Linked DNA regions of Homo sapiens: all the other regions are linked to region 1. Evidence: fine-mapped expression QTL. A gene starts in region 1. Each other region holds a variant in brackets. All regions are shown on one strand. Distances are between the middles of the regions.

Evidence for each region. PIP is the estimated chance that this variant, and not a neighbour inherited with it, causes the effect. A credible set is the group of variants that fine-mapping cannot tell apart.
Region 2: its variant is the best candidate, but not a certain one, in a credible set for the expression of GTPBP4 in fibroblasts (GTEx, PIP 0.80).
Region 3: its variant is the best candidate, but not a certain one, in a credible set for the expression of GTPBP4 in monocytes after interferon gamma (Fairfax 2014, PIP 0.70).

The regions. Positions count from the first base shown.
Region 1 is chr10:984,477-991,044 of GRCh38, reverse strand. It overlaps GTPBP4 (GTP binding protein 4), which reads right to left and starts at 2,611. Exons shown (of 17, transcript NM_012341.3): 1 at 2,518-2,611. The coding sequence starts at 2,565. It also overlaps a transcript of LARP4B not described here. RefSeq lists an enhancer at 1-864.
Region 2 is chr10:1,107,120-1,113,687 of GRCh38, reverse strand. The region is part of intron 11 of WDR37 (WD repeat domain 37); the gene reads right to left. Among named protein-coding and RNA genes, the nearest start is that of LINC00200, 49 kb to the left of the region's middle. RefSeq lists enhancers at 2,339-2,919, 3,296-3,445, 2,920-3,502, 2,820-4,019. The variant C/T (reference allele first, on the strand shown) is at 3,753.
Region 3 is chr10:1,016,688-1,023,255 of GRCh38, reverse strand. GTPBP4 (GTP binding protein 4) reads right to left here. Exons shown (of 17, transcript NM_012341.3): 17 at 3,324-6,181. The coding sequence ends at 6,029. IDI2 (isopentenyl-diphosphate delta isomerase 2) reads left to right here. Exons shown (of 5, transcript NM_033261.3): 3 at 481-573; 4 at 2,359-2,489; 5 at 3,422-4,346. The coding sequence ends at 3,739. It overlaps IDI2-AS1 (IDI2 antisense RNA 1), which reads right to left and starts at 619. Exons shown (of 5, transcript NR_027709.1): 1 at 473-619. The variant G/A (reference allele first, on the strand shown) is at 3,738.

The DNA of each region.
Region 1 (6,568 bases):
GCCTACAAGTGAGACAAGTAAACGGGTGGTCACAACAGTCTGCCAAGTACTATGAGGGGCACACACGGTCTCCCCTCTGGGCCCACACAAGATCTTCTCTACGTTCTTCTGCACCTAATGCCGTTCGCACATCCTGAAGGGGGACCAAGTCAAAGGTTACCTACTTCATAAGGTTCCCCCTGACTCTCCAACTTACCACAGCTAACCACACTCTTCTCCTCTCCCAATCCATGTGTGTCCTCCATGATAACAATGTTTTATTTCTAGTATGGTCATACGAGATATGACTTACCCCACTTTTTTTTTTTTTTTTTTTTGAGATGGAGTCTTGCTCTGTTGCCCAGGCTGGAGTGCAGTGGCGCGATCTCGGTTCACTGCAAGCTCTGCCTCCTGGGTTCAGTTCACACCATTCTCCTGCCTCAGCCTCCCCAGCAGCTGGGACTACAGGCGCCCGCCACCACGCCTGGCTAATTTTTCTGTATTTTTAGTAGAGACGGGGTTTCACCGTGTTAGCCAGGATGGTCTCGATCTCCTGACCTCGTGATTTGCCCGCCTCAGCCTCCCAAAGTGCTGGGATTACAGGCGAGAGCCACCGCACCCGGCCTCGACTTACCTCTCTTGAAAATGACTTCCAAAGAGGCAGGTATTTTATCTAATGCATTTTTGTAACACAGTACCCGATGCACAGGACAGGCACTCACTCAACATCTTCTAGAATGAACTGAATACCACACTTTCCCGATGTGATTTTTTTTTTTTACTTCCAATCACCAAACAATTACCATCACCCAGTTTTTAGATAAGTCATCTGTTCTCTAAAAATATAAATCTCACTCCACAGAACAGAAGACGGATGGTGTATAATATATTCTAAAGTTCTCCACATAAGTCAATAACATGAACAAAGTTCATATAATCCAAAGAGCAAATTCCTTCAACAAACCTGAGAGATGGTTGACCAAAAATACAAATAAGACATGACTCCTGCACTCGAAAATACTACAATCTGGCTGGGCACAGTAGCTCATGCCTGTAATCCTAACACTTTGGGAGGCTGAGGCAAGTGAATCACTTGAGATTAGGAGTTCAAGACCAGTCTGGCCAACATGGTGAAACTCCACTTCTACTGAAAATACAAAAATTAGCCAGGCCTGGTGGCGCATGCCTGTAGTCCCAGCTACTCGGGAGGCTGAGGCAGGAAAATCACTTGAACCTGGGAGGCGGTGGCTGCAGTCAGGATCACACCACTGCGCTCCAACCTGGCCAACAGAGCGAGACTCCATCTCAAAAAGAAAGAAAGAAAATACTACAATCGATCAAGAGATGTGCCAGAACAACTGTCAGGAAGAAATAAGAAATGGTGGAGAGAAGTGGGGAAACAACTTTTGCTATGAAGGTAAAATACGAGACTCCCACAAAGCTTTCCAAGGCAAGCTCATCCCGTCCTTGAGACCTGAAGAAAAGGAGGCACTGACGAGGGGAAAACAGTCACTCTGCAGGGACTTCAGTAACTCCCTCTCGTGCAGGAGTCCCTGGGAGGCTCCAGTTGCCCGTCAATGTCTGTGTAATTGCGACCCAAATCGAATGTTCACTACATAAAAACGTGACTTCTTAAAAGTCCTAATACTAGGGCCGGGCGCAGTGGCTCACGCCTGTAATTCCAGCACTTTGGGAGGCCGGGGCGGGAGGATCACCCGGGATCAGGAGTTCGAGGCCAGCTTGGCCAACGTGGTGAAACCCCGTCTCTACTAAAAATACGAAAATTAGCTGGGTGTGGTGGTGCACGACTGTAATCCCTGTTACTCGGGAGGCTGAAGCAGGAGAATCGCTTGAACGCGGGAGGTGGAGGTTGCAGTGAGCCGAGACTGCGCTCCAGCCTGGGAAACAAGAGCGAAAAACTATGTCTCAAAAAAAAAAAAAAAAAAAAAAAGTCCTAATACTCAACACTTGTTGACTCATTCTTGCCACACCAACCAACGCTGTAAAAATTTAGTCTGGGCCTACTATGGTCTGAAAAGGAACAGGTATTCCCAAATCTAACAGTGAAAGAGAATGACTTAAAAATTATGAAACGTTAAATCACGAGAACAACGAACCCAGGATTCCTGAGAGGGGAGGGGGCTACGCCAAACCCAGAATCCGAAGGCTCATCACGGACCACGGAACGCTTCCTCCCTCACATGTCGGGGTCCCCCTCCACTCGCCCACATCGTCACCCGGGGCCCCTCCAGGGAACCCAACTCTGGGTGTACCCCCATCTCTGGGGGCCCTCAGTCTTTGGGTGGACCACGGTCTTAGGTGGACCCCGGTCTCTGGGGGATCCGATCTCTGGTGGACCCCGGATTCTGCTGGGGGAGGGGAAATGATCCCGAGTACGCGGCCAGACGGTCAGGCCCAGGAGCGGGGGATGGGCGAGCGGAAGGCGACCGCTCTCCCACGGCTACAGGCCCGGACCCTCCCCGGGGACCCAGCTGAGGAGAACGCGAAAGTTGCAGTGGCCCTCCCGGGGCCGCCTACCTTGGCGGACGGCACCACCGTAATTTTCTTGAAGTTGTAATGTGCCATGCCGGCAGCCGTATGCACGCGGGTACTTGGCACTCCCGGAACTTCCGCCGTCGGGCGCAGGTGGGACTTCCACTGTCGGGCGGTTGAGGTACGTCACTTCCGGGAGCTCAGCCAATCGTGTTCTGCGTGCTCTACGGCGCTTTCCGCGTCGCACAGCGCACCCGCCCGGCTTGGAGGTCAGCCACGGAGGGCGTGTGAGGGCCTCAGGAGCGAGGGTACAGAGGAGAGGACGCCCGGGTTTTAGGGGGAGCGCGGAGACTAAATTCCTGCTGAGTAAAGCGGGGGTTTCCGACAGACTGCCCTGCGGGTTTCTGGAGCGGGTTCAGGCCCCCAGCCACGCGCCCTGGGCCAGGGTTGGAGGGTCCGGGGTCTTGGGATTTGGGAGTTGCGGGGCTTAGGAGTCCAGAGGGTCTAGGGGATCCGGGAGTCTGGGGGTCCTGGGTCGCGGCGAGCCCCGCAAAGGAGGAGGAAGCCGCGCGTGCGGGGCGTGCCCAGCCTCTGGGTGTGGAGCAGATGACGCCCCTACCCCGGCCTCGCGCGTGGGACTTGATCCCGGGCCGTGGTGAGGAGGCCCTCGCGGCTTCCCTGCAGCCCTGCTTTCTCGTGCTTGTTAAATCCCAAAACGGGCGGAGAAGGGAAAGCCTGATCTAAGGCAAAAGAGGTGCAGCTGGTTCCGCGCAGTGCCTTAGGAGAGCCCAGGGAACAGTTGCGAGAGACAGTCCTGTGGGGTCCAACTGAGGAGAAGGTTGATGAGGATGGAGCCTTTACTGCTTTTATGTTTGTGAATAGAGTGGCCGCTCCCTTTGGGAACCCAGGGCCACATCCCTTAAATTAAACGTTAGGTAGGGCTGACTCAGTCAAGCAGTGTTCAGAGCTGCTGACTATATATTAACTCGTTTAATTTCTGCAACAGCCTCATGAAGTGCATGGGGAAACAAAGGCACACAAGGCTCGAAAGCACCCCGTGGTTGTGCAGCTGACAAGCTAACAGGCAGCAGAGGTGGGCTTTGAACCCAGGCAGCCTGGCTCCAGCAAACCTGCTTCTAACCATTAGCTATACTGCTTCTCACGCATCTGGGATGCCCCCCACTCTCCAATCCTTTTAAACAAGTCCTATTATTCTTACGCGAAAATACCTCTCATAAATTCCCAGCATTCCAATATTGAAAATCATTCTGGGTCATGCTTTTCTCATCTATTAACTATGCTTCCATTTTTGTGTCACAAGGCGGATAAGCATACCTCCTACATCTTTGTGGCACTTCTAAAGGAAGCTTCTAGGGTAATTAGGATTTGCTGGCTATGATCATTTGCTAAACCACAGGACAGTTCTGGCCACCATTTCCGAGATTAGCAAAGCTATGCTCATACTTATTGCCCTTTCTTTTAGGTTCTTGTATGTTTCCTCAACCTCTCCCACTTTCTCTCACTCTGATATAGCCAGTTCCTCTTTTTCTTGTAATCCGGTATTTAGATAAGTCCAGTCAATACTTTGCTTCAGATGGGCAAACATCCTTTCTTTAATTTTTTTTTTTTTTTTGAGACGGAATCTCACTCTGTCGCGCAGGCTGGAGCGCAGTGGCGCCATCTCAGCTCACTGCAACCTCCGCCTCCAGGGTTCAAGCCATTCTCCTGCCTCAGCCTCCCAAGTAGCTGGGATTACAGGCACCTGCCACCACTCCCGGCTAATATTTTGTATTTTTAGTAGAGACAGGGTTTTACCATATTAGCCAGGCTGGTCTCAAACCCTGACCTCAAGTGATCCACCCACCTTGGCCTCCCAAAGTGCAGAGATTACAGGCATGAGCCACCTGCTTTTAACTTGTTCAGCTACAAAGGCATGTCTGTGAATGCACAACCATAATGACTCATCATGGGCCCAGAGCTATAACAATGATAAGGTACCAAGCATCTTACACCATGTGCGTGTTGATGAGAATCAACATCCTTGCCTGTTCTTGTGATTTTGTGGCAGAGTATAGCTTCTTGGGGGCAAGTATGTATTCTACACCACTAGGAGCAAGCTTCTTTATCATACACTTCTGGGCTTCTCTGGGGAAGCCAAACTCTAAAGGCCTTTTCTGAGGAGTGTCGCAAATGCTGCCTGCAGTACGAGGCACATTGCCAGTTCCTGACTGCATTAGCAGGTTCCAGCTGCCAGGACGCCTCTGAGTGTGTACCTTGTGACAGAAAGGTACTTCTCAGCTGTAGTAAAGGATGCTCTCAAGGGTACTCTGCAAAGCTTCTGACTGCGAGGCACTTCTCAGTAAAAAGCTTTGTTTTTCAGACCTTTTTATTTTGTGGGTTTGGTCTTTTCTGTTTTACCTTCTCGTTGCTGTAATTCTGATGGATGAAAGGTACATTTTGCAGAACTGAACTTCCTGCCTGAAAGGAGCCTTTACATGGGGATTAGCCATCAGTAGGCATCCGGTCTTAGAGGGTCCTATGAGTGCTCCATTGGGCCCGTCGGCCACTTCCCTGGATCCCCACAGGAACTCATTCAGAACGAGTCACATGCTGCTTTGTACCTAGATGCTTCCTTGTGTACATCTTGTTTCCAAAAGAAGTAGCCAGCTCTTCGTGGACAGGAACTGTGTCTTACTTTTTTGCCATCCCTCACCTCAGGCAGCACTGCCAAGAGCATTCACAGTGACTGTGGAACTCCGTTGATTGAATGTTGGCTTGAGTAAGTTCCTGATGTAGGGGCTGTAGCGGTTGGAATCAAGCTTCTGCAATACTCAAGTAGTCCTACTGAATTACAGTACTGTCAGACCCCCTCTGCACAACCCTGAAGTGGGTCAGAACTCCACACTGTGCCATAAAGAGGAAAGCTGTCAACAGGGAGGTCTAAGGAAACACCTCCTTAGGTGGAAGGCAGCAATGGCATGAGAGCCACCCTCCGGGCCAAAGGTGCAGCCTGACATTCTCTGCAGAATTACACAGTGAGTTAAGACTGTGAGCTTCATTTCTGAGATACAGCTCCACCCGCTGTGATCCTGGGAAAATGTCTCAGCTTCCCCAAGCCTCTGTTTCTTCACTCTTTGCTCACTTACTATCTACCAGGCATGTTAAAAATACTTTATGTGAATTATTTTAGCTTTTCACTAACCCTATTCTACAGGCATTAATAAGTGAGCAAAGAGATTGTGTATTATTAATTATGCATTATGTATTATCTATGTTCTTATTAGCTGCTTAGTTACAATAATATTTGCTAAACTTTTGTTCTATTCATTAAATTATCGTTGAACCTTAACAACTGCAATGCAGGGAGCCTCCACCATGTGCCAGGTCACTTGCTTTCTTCTCGGGACAGCATAGTGAGGTGGGTGTGATTGTCTCTGTTTCACAGACAAGAGTGCTGGCTTTGAGGTGGTTGAGTGCTTGCTCACCGTCACACAGCTGGAGAGACACAATGAGGTGCGTTCAGGGCGCATGGAACTCCAAAGCCACTCTCCTTTTGCACTGCCAGCCGAGAGTGGCTTTGTTCTTGACCTCTGTAGAGTTATTACCTTGTTTGGTATTTGTTTGTTTGTTTATTTATTTATGAGACAGGGTCTCACTCTGTCGCCTAGGCTGGAGTGCAATGGTGTGATCTTGGCTCACTGCAACCTCCACCTCCCAGGTTTAAGCAATTCTCAGATTTAAGTGCCTCAGCCTCCCGAGTAGCTGGGACTACAGGTACATGCCACCACACCTGGCTACTTTTTGTATTTTTTAGTAGAGGGGAGATTTCGCCATGTTGTCCAGGCTGGTCATGAATTGTTTGGTATTTAAATGGAGGTACATGATGGATTGCACTTGGGGTCATATGCTGTCAATAATCCCCCAGCACCTGTGTTTCACTAAAGCACTGTTTGCATATGCAGACAGGTTGTGTTTCTTCTGTGAGAATTCCGTTCCTGTGCGTGGATCATGACAGGCACCTGTGCTAATGAACTTCTGCCCTTGCTCACGTCAGAGCTGCTGATAAGGGGTGTTTCTATGGGTTGAGTACGAGTCA
Region 2 (6,568 bases), 120 kb before region 1:
ATCTTCCTGTTTCCACCACACCTGCAGTGACTTTCTCCATTGAAGCCTTGAACCCCTCAACGTCTCTCAAATTCCTGTGACATTTTGACCTTCTCCCATGAATCACAAGTGTTCTGAATGGCGACCAGAATGATAAATCCTTTCCAGAAGGTGCTCAATTGACGTTGCCAAGGTCCATCAGAGGAATCACTATCTATGGCAGCTATAGCCTTACAAAGTGTATTTTTTAAATAATAAGACTCAAAAGTCAAAATGACTCCTTGAACCATGGGCTGCAGAATGGGGGTTGTGTTACCAGGCATGAAAACACCATTCATCTCCTTGTACATCTCCGTCAGAGCCCTTAGGTGCACTGTCAATAAGCAGGACAATTTTGAAAAAAAAGTTTTTTCCTGAGCAGTAGCCTCAACAATAGGCTCAAAATATTCAGAAACCATGGTGTAAACAGATGTGCTCTCATCCAGCCTTTGGTGATCCATTTATAGAGCACAGGCAGAGTAGGTTTCACATAATTCTTAAGGGCCCTAGGATTTTCAGAATGGTAAATGAGCACTGGCTTCAACTGTAAGTCACCAGCTGTACTAGCCCCTCACAAGAGCATCAGTCTGTCCTTCGAAGCCAGGCAGTGACTTCTCTTCTCTAGCTAGGAAAGTTCTACGTGGCATCTTCTTTAACAGAAGGCTGTTTTGTCTACACTGAAAATCTGTTATTAAACATAGTCATCTTCATCGATGATCCCAGCTGGATCTTCTGGAGAACTTGCTGCAGCTTCTCCATCAGCACTTGCTGCTTCACCTTGCACTCTCATGTTATGGAGACGGCTTCCTTCCTTAAACCTCATAAACCAACCTCTGCCAGCTTCCAGCTTTTCTTCCGCAGCTCCCTCACCTTTCTAAGCCCTCACAGAATTGAAGAGTCAGGGCCCTGCTCTGGATTAGGCTTTGGCTAAAGGGAATGTTGTGGCTGGTTTAATCAATGCAGACCACTCAAAGTTCCTTCATATCAGCATTAGGATTGTGTTCTTATCATTCGTGTGTTCACTGGAGTAGCAGTTTTACTTTCCTTCCAGAACTTTTCCTTTGCATTCAGAACCTGGCTGTCCAGTGCAGGATGCCCAGCTTTCAGCCTCTCTGCCTTCGACACATCTTCCTCACTAAGCTTCGTCATTTCCAGCTTTCAAGTGAGGGACACGCAACTCTTCATTTCAACACTGAGAGGCTGCTATAGGGATGTTAATTGGCCTAATTTCAACAGTGTTGTGTCTCACTCATGAAGTCAGAGGCATTAGGAGAAGGTGAGAGACGAAGGAACGGCCAGTTAGTGGGGCAGTCGGAACACACACGATTTATCGACTAAGTTCACTGTCTTCTATGGGCAAGGTTCCCAGGGCCTCAAAACCAATTATAACAGTTACAGCAAAAGTCACTGACCACCCTCATATAATCACAATGAAAAAGTAAGAAGTATTGTGAGAATGACCAAAATGTGAGAGAGAGGCAGGAAGTGAGCACGTGCTGTTGGAAAACTGGCACCAACAGACCTGCTCAGCCAGGGCTGGGCTCCACAGACCTTCATTTGCAAAAAACATCAATCTACGGAGTGCAATCAAACAAGGTGTAAGAAATAGCCACCAAGGCACGTGCCTGCAGTCCCAGCTACTTGGGAGGCTGAGGCAGGGGAATCGCTTGAACCCAGGAGGTGGAGGTTGCAGTGAGCCGAGATTGCACCACTGCACTCCAGCCTGGGCAACAGAGCGAGACTCCGTCTCACAAAAAAAAAAAAGAGAGAGAGAGAAATAGCCACCAACAGCTGAATTCCTGTGACACACTGAAATTTTCAAATTAAGCCTTTTTATTATTTCTAATAACAACACATACTACAACTTCACATTTCTGCTATATGAAGTATCTAAAATTGCTTTTCATATAAATCAGTACACGCTGGGTCACTAACAAACAGTCAAATAAAAACAGCCACACAGTTACGCCAACTAAGTACTATCATGGTAAAATTCCTGCTATAATACAGAGATGCCACAACACAGAGTGGAAAGAAATAAGACACATCAAAAGGAAAAGGTGACTGGTCCTTCTAAACACGTAGGATCAAAGCCTTCAGCAGCTCACAGCACGGAGCTCCATCCCCATCCAGCAAAGGTAATGACCACACGTTTCAGGGGACCCATTTCGCTACACTTTTCTTTCTTACAGTGAAGCATTGGAACTCAAACTCCAGTCTTTCAAAAAGGCACAGAATGCAAGTAAAAGTATGGGGATTACAGTAAGAAAAAAAAGAAAGTGGGGAAAAATCTCTCCTGGAAACTGGATCACAAAACTGGGCCAGTTACCTTAAGCCTTTAGAGCTACTTCTTGCCTTAAGAAAACCCAATATACAGCAATTCACCTTAACTAGACAGTTAATTATTTACATTATAAAAGACATTAGATTCCAACATACTATACTAAAGAATTTACGCTTAGTTCCTACAAGTGAAAATACGCCCTAAGATAAAACTTTGAAAAGCACATTCCACATCATGTTAATATAAATTATGTGAGAAAGGGTATTTTTAGTCACACATGTTGAAGAAATACTGCCTCTGTTTAAGGGGTATCACTAAAAACACCATGCATATAACTTTCCAGCCTACATCAACAAGAACAGCAAACTTCCTAAGAACACATGTCTGACTTTTGCTTTCAATGCTCAGGAAAAGAACTAGTGAAAAGAACTCAGGATCACCCTGTAAAACCGGCAGAGCTACTTCCCGGATGAGCAGGCAGTCCTGCAGGCCTCAGGCCCGGCCCTGGGCCAACATTCCCACCTATCAGGGTGCCAGGCCCTGTGGGTCTGGGCGCTAACACGCTGGACACCCATCGGAGGCTCACGGATGTCCTTGGCGATGCCGTGGCCACTGCAGAGAAGCCCCCGGCGCAGAGGGTCCCTCAGAATGACATGGTGGCAGGGAAGGCAGGGGACCCAGGGTGTGCTCTTACAAGTCATGTTCAGAACGTCCCAGACAAGTGACCAAACGGAACACACACACACAACCTGGCCATTCCTCTCAGGAACTAAACCCGCACCCCGGACCTCACCCAGGTGTGCTGGGGCGCGGACGCACATCTCAGGACCTAAACCGCACTGCGAGGCCCTCACCCTGGTGTGCTGTGGCGCGGATGCACAGCTCTACACATTTGTAAGGATCACGCACTCTGTAGGTTTTATTTGTCGTATTGGCTCGAACCTACAAAACCCATGCCGGAGACAAAGGCAAGTGTTACTAAGAAGACACCTCAGATGAAACATTTTTGTAAAATGACTCATTTCCTGCTTTTCTCATTATGAGGCACGTCTAAAGGTTTACAGCTGATCTGATGTCAGGAAGGAAGAGTTTGTGTTCAATAAAGGCGTCCACGGCTCCACCTGCTGACCAAGCCCTCATCCTGCATGCGCACAGCTGAGAAACCGCCAGGCCGGTGAGGGGAAGCTCAATGTCCAACAGCCCAGCGGACTCGCCCCGACACAGCAACAAAATTAGCGCCAAAGAGAGATCTTTTCAAAACGTATTTTTGGATGTACACATCAACAAGATACGCTAGTTCATGATAATTTGAGTAAGAAAAAAGAAAGCGTAAACGATCTGAGTAAGCATGGCCCGGGCAGGTCTGGTCCACGTTCACCTCACCCCCGTGGTTCAGGTGAATGGAAGCACAGCCTACAGCCTGGAAGACCCATGTGGGAGAAAGGGCACA[C/T]GGGAATTACACACTCCACCTTACTCTACCCCCACACCTGATTCCAATAGGAAGACATAAACCCTAGGAAACTGTATTCATAGGTCCACATTAGTAAGAACTTTTTCATAACACTTACTACATTCTTCATAAGTACAGCTCTCTAAAAAACTACCATTGTTTCATGTATCCACTAGCTGCAAAAATGTACCACAAATTAACCAGAATTTTTTTTTTTCTGAGACGGAGTTTGGAGTTTCGCTCATTGCCCAGGCTGGAGTGCAACGGCGTGATCTCGGCTCACCGCAACCTCCACCTCCCAAGTTCAAGCGATTCTCCTGCCTCAGCCTCCCAAGTAGCTGGGATTACAGGCGTGCGCCACCACACCTGGCTAATTTTGTATTTTTAGTAAAGACAGAGTTTCTCCATGTTGGTCAAGCTGGTCTCAAACTCCCAGCCTCAGGTGATCCCCAAAGTGCTGGGATTACAGGCGTGAGCCACCGCGCCCAGCCTAAGCAGATATTTTAAAGATGCCACCAGCACTGACTTCACTTCACAGTCAAATGGCCAAGACCACACGGTTGCAACAGCCTTAGAAGCGAAAACATGCACTTGCAATCAACTCTGGTGATATAAATACAAAAACTTTTCTTTTTACACAAAACAAAAATAAAATCTTCCAGTTAAATATGGCAACTGAACAGAGACAATACAGGACTAGAAGGGTCTTAAATAACACAAGAGGCACCTTGAAGGCACCAGGAGGGACTGCTCTGGAATGACCCCCTAGAGCCAAACCCTCAGCAAACCACCTGGCCTCCTCATGCCTCAGTTTCTCTCTCTGAACTGGGGTGATGCCAGGGGCTCCAACAGTGCCTGGCACAAACCAGCAACTCACCAAGCCCTGGCTCCACTGCGTCCTCCTCTGGACAGAATTCTTCGGCCTTTCCATCCTGCCCTCAAAGGGGACAGGCACAGCAGGGCACACTGGCCTATCCCTGCAACCCCCATATCAGAAGCACATAGGAAGCTGCCCTGCTCTCTAGACACAAAACTACCCTCTTCACCCAATTCTCAAAGCTCTGACAGATTTTTGTGCTCCATACAGATGACCAGAGTCAATGCAGTGAGAGCTGCTGGGTCTTCCCAGCCTGGGGCAGGGAGCTGTGCCAGGATGGTGGCACTCAGGGCCCTGCAGGTTCCACGGGGGGGGGGGGCATCACAGAAGCCAAAACCAAAGCAACCACAGGGATCACAACCACCAACACCAACAAAGTGCAGGTGTCTATGCTCGCTAATACTCAAAAAACACAGTGCCAACTAACCAGTGTAGACAGAAGTACAAAGATCCCCTTCTGCAGGACTCAGCGTAACAATGAGCTGAAGCCCTGGACCGAGGAAAGGTCACTGGGGAATTAACATCCATAGAATAGTGTCGCTTCGCTATTTGAAACAGGAGAGCACCTCTGGCAGGCAGACCTGCAGACGCCATCTTAACTGCAGGAGCGCTTCAGCACACCAATAGCACAGCAGAGGGGCACTTAAAGGAAGTCATAAGAAAAATGCAGAATGAGGGGCGTTCTGCAAAAGAGCAGGCTTGGATTCTTCACCAAAAAACTCAATATCCTAAAAAGTAACAAAAAATGGGGGAAGGACCATTCTAGATTAAAAGAAGCCAAAGGACATAATATCTAAATGTGATGAGAGAATCCTGATTAAATCCTAGCTCTAAAAAAAGTATCAAAGACATTTTGGGGAGAACTGAGTAAATTTAAATGTGGACCAGATAAAGGATGCCATAGAATTTTTACTAATTTTCTTATTTGAACAATGGTACTGTATTAGGAGAACATCCTTATTCTTAGAAAATGCATGCTGGAGTTTTCCTTTCAAAGGGCTCAGCCAAAGAAAATATACAAGTGTGTGTTATAGACAGAGGTGTGTACACATCTACAGAGACAGCAGTGCTGCAATACAACAACAGGTGAACCTAGGTGAAGGATAAGTGGGCGTGTCTGTTACAGACAGGTGTGTACACATGTGTAAATAGAGACAGCAGTGCTGCAATACAACAACAGGCAAACCTAGGTGAAGGGGAAGTGGGCGTGTGTTTCAGAGAGAGGCGTGTACACATGTGTAAAGAGAGACAGCAGTGCTGCAATACAACAGGCGAACCTAGGTGACAGGGTAGTGCGTGTTGTGTGTTACAGACAGTGGTGTGTACACATGTGTAAAGAGAGACAGCAGTGCCGCAATACAACAGGTGAACCTAGGTGAAGGGTTAGTGGGCGTGTGTTTCAGAGAGAGGTGTGTACACATGTGTAAAGAGACAGCGGTGCTGCAATACAACAGGTGAACCTAGGTGAAGGGTTAGTGGGCGTGTGTTTCAGAGAGAGGTGTGTACACATGTGTAAAGAGACAGCAGTGCTGCAATACAACAGGCGAACCTAGGTGAAGGGTTTGTGGGTACACTGTACTACTCTGTTGGTTTTTATGTAGGCTTGAAACTTTTCTAAGCAAAAAGCTTAGGAAAGCACTGCAGGCGCAGGAGTGAGACCATCTTGCTCCTCCCGTCCTCTAGGCCTCCGACTGCCCTTCCAATGAATTCTCATGAGAAACAGCAGGGCAGTCATGCGGGCCCCTCTGCCCCGCCCTACACAGTGGTGCCAGGTGGTGGGCCCAGGTCCAGCCAGGGCTTTGCTGTGGGGCCCCTCTGCATCTGGTGGACGTCGGGGAGCACCACATCCAAGCTAACATGCATGGGAAGCAGCGCTCCCCGAGCTGCAGCATCTTCCTCACCAATGAGCTGGCCTGCAGCGGGGTCAGGCCCATGTGGC
Region 3 (6,568 bases), 32 kb before region 1:
GATCCGCCCACTTCAGCCTCCCAAAGTGCTGAGATTACAGGCGTGAGCCACCGCACCCGGCCCGATTTCATTCTTCTTTTGTGGTGGAATGGTATGCCACTGTGTATCTAACCCTCATGTTTTCAACCCTTCAAACCTCCACGGACACAGGTTGATCTCATATCTTGGCTGTCGTAAATGGTGCTCAGCACCCAGGAATGCTGCGATATCTCTCTGATAGACTGATCTCTTTTATTTTGGATATTTGCCCTGGTAGTGGGATTTCTGGGTCATCTGGTAGATCTATTTTTAGTTTCCCGAGTGTTCTAATCCGCTGAGATTCTGAAACGTTGTGTTTGGGCATCCAGCAGTCCCCTTTGCCCTGCCCAGGTGCCACAATCACAGGCTTTTCTACGAGAAACAGACTGAGGACAAAAAGCACGAAGGACAATCGTACAGACTCCAGGCATGCACTCACACAAATGGCACTTACCTTTGCAGGGCTGCTGCACCGAGCCTTCAGCGTTGTCTTGTTTAACACCAAGAATCGAATCCTGATACAGCAGAGGTCGGACACGAAAGTCACGTTTCCTGGTGAGTCCGTTCAACCAAGCCCCGGACTGAAGAGAGCATCTCATGTGACTTGACCGGAGGAATCTGGGACAGGAACTCTCTGGTGCTCAGTGCCGCACTGTGGTGAGCTGGCAGCTCATCCTGCAGAAAATCGGCAGCTTAGGCAGATGCTAATTATGCTGATAGCTCTTCAGTAGGCTGGGTTTTCTTTTTTAAAAAAGTAAGAAACTATATGAGTTTCTGGGTTTTTTTGTTTTGTTGTTTCTTTGCAACGGCAAGTTACTTAAATGCAGAGGAATTTATCAACCTAAGGATTTAGGGGATTAAAATAGCATTTAGCATAAAATTAACTAGGTAATAATAATAAAAATTATCTTACAGGTCTTAGAGTTTTAATTATCTTGTACTTCTTAAAATTACAACTTAAAATTTTTTTTTTTTTTTGGAGATGGAGTCTGGCTCAGTCACCCAGGCTGGAGTGCAGTGGCGCCATCTCGGCTCACTGCAAGCCCCGCCTCCTGGGTTCACGCCATTGTCCTGCCTCAGCCTCCCAAGTAGCTGGGACTACAGGCGCCCGCCACCACACCCGGGTAACGTTTTGTATTTTTAGTAGAGACGGGGTTTCACCGTGTTAGCCAGGATGGTCTCGATCTCCTGACCTCGTGATATGCCTGTCTTGGCCTTCCAAAGTGCTGGGATTATAGGCGTGAGCCACCGGGCCCGGCCAAAAAATTTTTTAGAGGGGAACAGCATTTACGTCAATTGTGGTCATTTAAAGTGTTTTGGCCTAGGCTGTCCTCAAATTTTCAAAACCAGACCTTGCCTGAGCCATTAAAGCGAATGGCTAAGCACGGCCAGCTGTGGCCGAGGTTTTCTCCTCCCTTAGTTCTTCCTCGGAGCCGCAGTGGGTACATCCTGCCCATTCCCAAACCCACCACCATACTTGCTGGTCAAGTTGTACTCACGGGCTCCTTGATGGAGCTGAATGCAAAGTTTGTTTCAGAAAAATTCAGGAGCTGCAAAGTTAAGAGGGTCAACTGTAGTACATAGTCAACAGTTTGCAAATAAAGCCCCTGGAGCTAAGATTTCCTATCATGTGTTAGCCGCCTCCAGGATACATAGGGGCAGGTGGGAGTACCAGCTCTTGTACTTGCAAGAGTGGATTCAACTTCAGCCAAACTCCTTGCAGAGTGACCGAAGGAAGCACTGAGGGTCTGAGGAACGAGAGGGAACAGAGATTTACTGAGGAGAGTGTGACCTCCCGTCATAGCGCTATTGCTGTTACTTGGGTAAATTAAGTAGAACCTCTCAGTAAGGAAACTTGGTCAAAGGTATTCCAGCAGTCTTCCTGTGAAACCATGCTCACTGATCACCACCCTCAAAGTGCAGCCCAGCTTCCTCAGCCCAGCTGGTGCAGCCACCCAGCCCACAGCCCCACCACCTCCTCCCGCCACCCCATGGCATCTCAGGTCCTCTGTGGGTACAAAACTGAGTAGGAACCAGTCCCTCTCCTAAGACATACTGGGATAGTGCCACGGGACATGTGTGTGCACATCTGCAGGAAGGGCCGCAGGAGCGGTCAGGGCCAGCCCCGCCAGGTGGTCATGTGGAAGACCCTCACCAAGCCCACAGCCGTGGAGGCTGGAGGCGAGTGCTGCTCTGAGAGCCCATGACAAACCCACTCCCCCCGCCAGGCTGTCTTCTGCTGATGACGGATGATGGTTTTACATGAAGCATCTGCATTTGTATTTAATATATTCACTTTTCAGGAATAAAGAGGGATGTTCCCACATGCATTTTTTCCAGGGTATTTTACCGACTCCTGTAGTAGCCACCCATTATACAACCCAGCAGAACTGGAAGAAAAGGATGCCATCGGAGTGAGGAGGGCAGCCCAGAGGCGTCTGCAAGCAGAGCTGGGAATTCCTGGGGAGCAGGTACACACAGCATCCAGTCTCAGCTGTGTCCACGGGAGTCCAGGTTGGCAGCGGGCAGACGGTGAACAAAGTCCAGGCTGGATCTACACCATTGACCTCATGAAGCACCATGAGGATGAAGGATGGGGCTGTGGATGGGGCTGTGAATGAGCTGTGAATGGGGCTGTGAATGGGGCTGTGAATGTAGCTGTGGATGGGGCAGTGTGAGTCCCTATGTGTCCCAGGCAGGGTTGAGACTGTGCAGGAATCTGTCGACCACACACCGAAGAGGAAATTCAAGCCGGGCGTGGTGGCTCACGCCTGTAATCCCATCACTTTGGGAGGCCGAGGCGGGCGGATCACAAGGTCAAGAAATCAAGACCATCCTGGCCAACATGGTGAAACCCCGTCTCTATTAAAAGTACAAAAATTAGCTGGGCGTAGTGGCACACGCCTGTAATCCCAGCTACTTGGGAGTCAGAGGTTGCAGTGAGCCGGGATTGTGCCACTGCACTCCAGCCTGGCGACAGAGCGAGACTCCATCTCAAAAAAAAAAAAAAGAAAGAAATTCAAGTGTAGAAAGAATGTCCAGGATCCTGTGAGCATGTGTTACCTTCATCCACTCAAGAACACGTTTAAGAGAGGATGGATGTTCTCCTGACAACGCTAGCCGGTTTCTACGGGGTTTTCTGTTGAGGATGTGTGTGTGACACGGTTAGTTCTTTAAATGAAGACAGACAGGTTTACTGGAACCAAGAAACCAAAGCCGGTTTATCATTCAGACTTGAGTCCACAAAAATTTACTTAGCTAAAATCGAGGTTTTGGAAATTATCAATTACCAAAGAAAGTGTTCATTTTCTGAGGAAAACAAATGTGTTTATTTTCTCTATTTTTCTGTAAATTCTGTGTTTTACATTAGCGTTGTTAACACTGCACCAATTTCTGTCAATAGATTTCTCCAGAGGACATTGTGTTCATGACAATCTATCACCACAAGGCAAAATCAGACAGAATTTGGGGAGAGCATGAAATTTGTTACCTTCTGCTTGTGAGGAAAAACGTCACTCTGAACCCGGATCCCAGTGAAACGAAAAGCATCCTCTACCTGTCCCAGGAGGAGCTGTGGGAGCTGCTGGAGAGGGAGGCGAGGGGTGAAGTCAAAGTCACCCCCTGGCTAAGAACCATTGCCGAGAGGTTTCTGTACCGGTGGTGGCCTCACCTGGATGACGTGACCCCGTTTGTGGAGCTTCACAAAATACACAGAGTGT[G/A]AGAGGCAGGGAGGTCGAGTCAGCCATGTGTAATGCCCTCAGTGCAGGCAGACGCACCATTGAGGCAATGATACACCCTCTCCAAAAAACAGGGCAAAAGGGGCACTTGATTGCCCATCATGTATAAATCACTATTTCAACCTTTTCATCAACTTTGTCATATCTTCATTTTCCCTTTTCCTTATTTCCATATTTCTCATCTGCCTGGTTGCAGGGAGGAAATTTAACATTTCCTTTGTCCCAATTTCCATTTTATAAGCACTTGTTTGATTAACAGCAGCTGATCCTGAAAGTCTTGGGGAGATCTTGAGAGTCCTGAAGCAGGCGGACTAGCCTGGCTGGACCATGAGGCTGTCTCCCCACAGCTTTATCCAAGCCTCCAAGGTCAGGATGGGATCTCTGTATCATGTTTTTCTTTTTAAATCACTTATTTCAGAGTGCAACACAAGGCTGCATTTTTAAAAAAAAGACACATTCAATCTTGCATCCTAATACAAGCAGTACGGAAGATGCGTATGGTCTCAGCCAAGTGACTCGACGTTTATCCACTTCTGTTCATTTGATCGTTTCAGTAATATGCTTACAAATAAAGACATACTTGCTTTAAAACATACTGTTGTTGTTTAACACAAAGTAAACTATATGTTAAGTTTTGGTGTTTAATACGGAGAAAGAATTTCAAAAACCAGACCTGGTATTTTTTTTTTTTTTTTGAGATGGAGTCTCGCTGTCGACCAGGCTGGAGTGCAGTGGTGCGATCTTGGCTCACTGCAAGCTCCGCCTCCCGGGTTCAAGCCATTCTCCTGCCTCAGCCTCCCAAGTAGTTGGGACTACAGGCGCCCGCCACCACACCCAGCTAATTTTTTGTATTTTTAGTAGAGACGGGGTTTCACCGTGTTAGCCAGGATGGTCTCGATCTCCTGACCTCGTGATCCGCCTGCCTCGGCCTCCCAAAGTGCTGGGATTACAGGCATGAGCTGCCGCGCCCGGCCATACTGTTGTTGTTTAACACAAAGTAAACTATATGTTAAGTTTTGGTGTTTAATACGGAGAAAGAATTTCAAAAACCAGACCTGGTATTTTTTTTTTTTTTTTCACACGGAGTCTCTCTCTGTCACCCAGGCTGGAGTGCAGTGGCACGATCTCGGCTCACTGCAACCTCCGCCTCTGGGCTCAAGCAATTCTCCTGCCTTAGCCTCCCGAGCAGCTAGGATTACAGATGCCCACCACCACGCATGGCTAATTTTTGTATTTTTAGTAGAGATGGGGTTTCACCATGTTGGCCAGGCTGGTCTCGAACTCCTGACCTCCTGATCTGCCCACCTCGGCCTCCCAAAGTGCTGGAACTACAGGCTTGAGCCCCTGCGCCCAGCCCAGCCCTGGTAAATTTTTAAAATTGCCACATGTAATCCAGAAGTGTGATTAACTAAAGTCCTTTCCTCAGCTATAATGTTGATTGTGTGACTTGATAACTTATCCGTGGTGGCTCTTGGACCCCTGTGTGTCTTTGGAGCTCCAGGAGCACACGGACCCCTGGGCAGGTCCCTCCGACCCCACAGCTCTTCACCCCAACGCTCCCCAGCAGGTGCTTTTGAGGTGGCATTGGCGGTGTTTTTGTGTTTTACTGAACATGTAACTTCAGGGACGGGCCACAGAAATAGGAGAATGCCCATATTTAATTGCCTAATGCCTCCAGCAACATTTTACTCCCCCAAAAGTATTTTTGCTTTAAAACAAAATAGAAATGTCATGTTGTTTGCCTTTTTATTTGGCCAAATCCATAGCGACTATAACTAAACCAAAACATGAGCTAAGTAAATGAAAACTACTTTCTTCTGGAGGTTTATTTTGGATAAAATAGTTGAAGACAGACTACAATGAGACATTGTAAAATAAGACTAGAAAATAATTTAAGAGCGTATTTTAAGCACGGGATTCCGACACACTCATAAACGTGTTTGCTCCCAGCTCTTACAAAAGAAAATAAGGTTTTTCTCCATCAAAAACAACCTAGTTAAACCAGTAAATCTTCCCAGTTCTGAAAATCTGAAGCAACTGATACTCCATTAAATGTGGAAACACTGTCTACTCAAAATATTTGTAATATTATGCAGTGACAAAAATTTCCCACACCTATATAGGGTTAACCATAGTTTTCAGCAAAGCAACAAGTGCTTTACTTATTTTGTCTTTTTCAGTTTATACAGAGCTCCAATTTCATGAAACCATACTGTGCCAAACCAGGAAATAAACAGCAACACTCTAGCGAAGCCACGCCAACCAAACGGATACTATCTCCTGTCCTTTTTACCAGCTTTCCTCTTCCCAGACAGCAAGTGCTTGGGCTTCATATCAAACACGTGTCTATCCGCCTCCCCTTTCTTCCCCAACCGATTCATCTTCTTCTGAGCATTCTTCATCATAGTCTTGGCTTTCTTCACCATCTAAAAGGAGGAGAAAAAAATAAAGTATGTTCATTACTTAAAACCAATTTTCCATTCTGAATTTCAACTACTGGGTAACAATCTGTTTAATGGCTCAGGTCTGCTCAGCGAAGAGACCCTGTTACATCTCTTTTCTCTTAAGCCCAGCACAGTTATCCCTGTTACATCTCTTTTCTCTTAAGCCCAGCACAGTTACCCCTGTTACATCTCTTTTCTCTTAAGCCCAGCACAGTTACCCCTGTTACATCTCTTTTCTCTTAAGCCCAGCACAGTTATCCCTGTTACATCTCTTTTCTCTTAAGCCCAGCACAGTTATCTGCAGGAACTCAATGAGTATTTTTGTATAAAGACTGGATGAAAATCATACCCAGGACAAGCTTTATACCC